Regions from separate parts of the Homo sapiens genome. Here region 2 is linked to region 1. The links come from fine-mapping of genetic effects on gene expression. Tissue or cell type: whole blood. Region 1 holds a variant in brackets; the other region holds the start of a gene. All regions are shown on one strand. Distances are from middle to middle.

The links. PIP is the estimated chance that this variant, and not a neighbour inherited with it, causes the effect.
Region 2: HPS4 starts here. The variant in region 1 is fine-mapped to the expression of HPS4 in whole blood (TOPMed, PIP above 0.99).

Annotation. Positions count from the first base shown.
Region 1 is chr22:26,424,808-26,427,307 of GRCh38, forward strand. No RefSeq gene overlaps it. Among named protein-coding and RNA genes, the nearest start is that of ASPHD2, 3.2 kb to the right of the region's middle. The variant T/G (reference allele first, on the strand shown) is at 960.
Region 2 is chr22:26,482,475-26,484,974 of GRCh38, forward strand. It overlaps HPS4 (HPS4 biogenesis of lysosomal organelles complex 3 subunit 2), which reads right to left and starts at 1,309. Exons shown (of 14, transcript NM_022081.6): 1 at 1,200-1,309. It overlaps SRRD (SRR1 domain containing), which reads left to right and starts at 1,403. Exons shown (of 7, transcript NM_001013694.3): 1 at 1,403-1,625. The coding sequence starts at 1,417. RefSeq lists an enhancer at 1,357-1,476 and a silencer at 1,497-1,586.

The DNA.
Region 1 (2,500 bases):
CCACCTCAGCCTCCCAAGTAGCTGAGATTACAGGTGTGAGCCACCATGCCCGGCTTTAAAAACCATTTTAATATCACAAATAACATACTAATACTTATTTGTTAAAAGTGAAACTTACTTTTTAAAAGTTAAAAGTTAAGCTATTTCCAAATATTTGCAAATGCAAAGCGTATTCCTGAAAAGATGAATAAGAAATTTGTTATAATGGCTGTCTTCACTAAAGAAAACCAACTGGTTGAGGGATAGGAGAGTGACGCGGTCCCAGTAACTTTCTGCATGTTGTTCCGGAGTATTTAAACACCTTTGAAAATATTAAATTAAAACATCACAAAAAATGCTGGAGTTTCCCTTGCCTACTGCTCCCAATTCCTTGTTCCTTCTTGGTCCCCCCTGAAGTTACAACTCTTAGGAATTTGGTGTGCTTCCTCTGAGGGATATTATCTGCATTTACAAACGTAATTATTTTGCATTTTATATAGGAGAACATACTAGTGTGTTCTTCTAGTGCTTTCCCTGCTTTTATATAAATACATGTGTATACCCACATGTGTACAGGTGCGTGTTATGTAGATAAAATCATACTACAATCATAATTCTGCTTTTTTTTTAATTTTCACCCTATTATTTTTCTAGGAGCTTTATCCACGTTGCTATATATACATCTAGCTCCTGCTTTTAGTAGCTTCACAGTATTACGTAATATGAAAAAACAACTAGTCTTCCATCTATCCCAGAATCCCTCTAGGTTAGATATAGCATAGCGAAATTGTTGGTTTCAGTGTATACATATTTGTTGTTGTTTTAAGGAATACTACCAAACTGCTCTCCAAAGTGATCATACCAGTTTCTTTAATGCACCAAGCAAGCACATCTCCCTCCCTCCCTCCCTTCTTTCTTTCCTTCCTTCCTTTCCTCCTTCCCTCTCTCCCTCCCTCCCTCTCTCTTTCTTTCTTTCTTCT[T/G]TCAGAGAGTTTTGCTCTGTTACCCAGGCTGGAATGCAGTAGTGCAATCTCAGCTCACTGCAACCTCTGCCTCCTGGGTTCAAGCAATTCTCCTGCCTCAGCCTCCAGAGTAGCTGGGACTACAGGCGTGCACCACCACACCTGTAGTTAATTAATACAAAAATTAATACAAAACTTTTTGTACTTTTAGTAGAGACAGGGTTTCAACATGTTGATCAGGATGGTCTAGGACTTCTGACTTCAGGTGATCCACTGGCCTCGGCCTCCCAAAGTGCTGGGATTACAGATGTGAGCCACCACGGCTGGCCGCAAGCACATTTTCCACTGACTTGCTGCAACCTTGATTGAGCAAGGCATGTTTTCTCTCTGGGCTTCCATCTGTAGGAGGAGGGAGTTGAGTGGACCCCGTGAGTGTATGAGACGGTGTAATGATAGGTTGTGTAGTCTCGGAGTGGGTAGGATGACTGCGCTAAAGAAGGCAGCGAGAGCAGGAGGATGCAGGTGGCAGCCAAGCTGAAGGCAGGCAATTCAGATGCCCTTGGTCCTCCTCTCCGCCTCTCCATGAGCACAGTAACAATTTATCTGGAGCTCTCACCCAAAATCCCCCTCTGAAAGGCATGGATATCCTTTTCTGCAGAATTCACCTAGTAGGGTCTCCAAGGGGTTGACAGAGGCCCAGGTCATTTCCATTTATTGAGACTCCCAGCTAATTAAAAAGATGAAGAAATGGTAAGCAGGGCTAACAAAATTGCGTGTATAGTAATATTGCCATTGAACAAATAAATACTAACAAATGCAGAGCAGTGGTCTACAGATATCATATAATTGCACTGGTCAAGGACACTTATAGGATTGATAGACAATATTAATTCATAATACAGTACAGATAAGATGGTGCAGGAATGGAACACATATTTACAATATAAAAATATCTTTTTTTTTTCAAACCTGCCAGGATAATGCTGTGATAGAATGTATGACTGCCTTTGGAGAATTCTAAGTTTGAGCAACTTTCTGAATGTGAGATGAGTCAAATACCCCCCACTCCATTTTCTCCACCCCACCCAGGCTCAACCACTCTTAGGCTGACAGTGAAGACAGACATCCCATTTAATGTTTCTAAATCTGATGCCTGTGTTGATTATCCACACTTTGAGCAAATCTGTGCATATTATGGTTTCCCAATGCAAGTGTTTTGGTTTATTTTAGTAGAATAAAAGAGAAAAAACATTCTTCCTCTTTTGGAGTTGAGAAAAGGAGAGAAATGACAGAGATGAAGAAGAGTCTAAGACATGGAAGAGGTGTATTCTGGGACATGGGAGAGGTGTACTCTGGGACATGGAAGAAGTGGGTTCTGGGACATGACAAACTGGGTTCTGGAACAGGGAGGAGGTGGATTTTAGGCTATCACAGTAGAGGCAGATTCTTAGGTCAGGGACCAGGTGGATTTTGGGACAGAGATGAGAGGTGGGTTCTGGGACATGGTGGAGGTGGGCTCTGGGACAGGGAGGAGGTACATTCTGGAACAGGGTGAAGGTGGC
Region 2 (2,500 bases), 58 kb after region 1:
TGCTCTAGGTGTGGACAGCTATACAAATAAACCAGTTGCTGTGGTAATAATGGAACCCAAATTAAGGAACTGTCATCTTGACAGTCCAAAAGTAACCTGAACATGCAGAATTCCAGAGCAGGGCAAATTTCTAAAAAATGAAGAGAACTTTATCAAATGGCTTTCAAACTTCCACAAGAGAAAGACAGCTCAGTGTATCACGGAATTTCAGAGTCGGAAGGAACCCTGGCATCGTTTACTCTACTCTCCTGCACTCTTTTCCAAAAATTACCTTGGCTGTCTCTGCTTTACACCCTCCAGAGATGCGTGGTTCACTATGTTACATTTCTCCTTCCAACAAACTAAAATCTGCGTTCCAGATTTTACATCTGCCTCCCACTCGCTAGTCTGGATAACGCTCTGCAGGAAAACACAAAACAAGGTCTAATTCTTCCATGTGACAACCTCTTGGTCACTTCAAAACTATTGTCTAATTCTTACTGTCACTTTCTCCAAGCTTAATGCTTTAGCAACATGGTCTCAAATGTTTGCTCACCATTCTGCAATCTGTGGGTACACAATACAGTTTGTTAAAAGTCTCTAGAGACGACCCCCATTGAATATTTGACGGCCTGTAAAATCTCTATCTCTTCTCAGCTCTAGATATTTTGGATTGGGCCTCCACAGGACCACACTCATTGTATTCTATGGAGCATATTTGGGTGCCTGTGGAGGGGGTATCTCTGTTACTGGAACCAAGGACAGCAGCCTAAAACTCCCCATCCCTTGTTCCCAGAGGACTGGGCCCTACACTACCGAGGTCCTCTCTTATCTCTGAAAGGTCCAGAAGAGACCAATAATGGCCCTGGAGTAGGAAGAGACGTCGGAACATGAGCAGAAAAGGATCTGGTAGCCTGGGAAGTAATAGTAACAACGCGGGGCTGGGGCTGGTGATACTGCTGTGGGAAGGGGCCTCAGTGGGGCAGCAGGGCTGGAAAACGGACGCTAATGGCTGGAAAAGGGCCAGGAAGCTGCTGGGCGCAGCCCCCGGGGCGCAGGCAGCGACTGGTAACAGCACTAGGGCTGTGCGGTGTCTGGCCCCAGCTCTACGGGACTGGGAAATGGTGGGCGAACGCCTAAGGATTAGGCGGGGTCGGGTCACGCTCTAAGCTGGGGGCCCGCCCCTCGGTATCCCCGCGCTCCGAGCGCCGCCCACCCACCGGAGTAGCCAGGCATCCCAGTGCTCGGGGTTCGGGACTCTGGACCAGAAATGTGGGCAGCAGCTGGGTACCTGCGACTTCTGCCCCGTACCTGCGCGCGCGGCAGAGAGGCCTTAGGTCACGCGCCGCCCCGCCTACCTCCCCCTCCAGCTCCTGGCAAGCCGGCGCGCGGCGATGACGTGCCGAGTGCGCCGCACGCCGCTGACGTCAGAGACCAATGGCTGCGGCCGCAGCTGCGGCGCTGGAATCCTGGCAGGCGGCGGCTCCGCGGAAGAGGCGCTCCGCGGCTCGACGGCCGCGGCGGAGGGAGGCGGCGCCCCGGGGGAGAGAGGCGGCGCCCCGGGGGAGAGAGGCGGCGCCCCGGGGCCCCGAGGCGGAGTTCGAGTCTGACAGCGGAGTCGTGCTTCGTCGCATCTGGGAGGCTGAGTGAGTGCAGGCTCGGCCCTGATGGAATCTTTGCGCCCATGGGCAATTCTGAGCCACAGTCTCCCCATCTGTAGAGTGGAGATATAATGCACACCCTTTAAGGAGTTATTGTGAAGAGTTAACGTAGGTAACGAGCTCATTAAAGATGTGGATTATAGTAAGCGCTCAGTTAAAGGTCGTCTTTCCTTTTATTACGGTTACAGCTGCGTGACCTTGGACAATTTATAATCTCTGTGCCTCAGTTTTCTCATCTGTGAGATGGGGATGAAAATAGTACATACGTAGGTTTGTTTTGAGGATTCAATGAATTAGTAAACGGAAACCATTTTCTGGCACGTGGTAAGCACTGTGCCAGTGTTTGCTATTAATATTATGCCGATGTTGATATTATTGGTGGTGGTGACACGAGGGAAGCAACATGAACACGTGACTGCTATCATCAGGCAGCTGCTATGTGCCTGACATTAGCTTAATCATTCTACACACTTTATGTTAAACATTGCAGGCATACTAGGACCCTGGTAGCTCACTGATTCTCAAAGAGACAAAGAAAATGTGTGGAACCAGATTTCAAACCCAGGTCTTTGTGACAAAAACCAGTGCTTCCAGCTTTCCATTATGCTTGTTGCTTATCCCAGCCCAGATTCTCACATACCTTGCTCTGTACCTTAGAAAGTACATAGAGAGTGCCTAATACAGAGGAAACACTCAATAAATGTTACTTATTATTGTTATTTAGTATTATTATCTTTATTCGCAGTTTTGTTTAGGCTCAATAAATAACAGCTTTAGTTAGCACTTAAGATCAGCATCCGAAGGGCCGTCACAAGGGGAGAAATTAGATTAATTTTGTGTGCTCCTCTCCCCTAGAATTA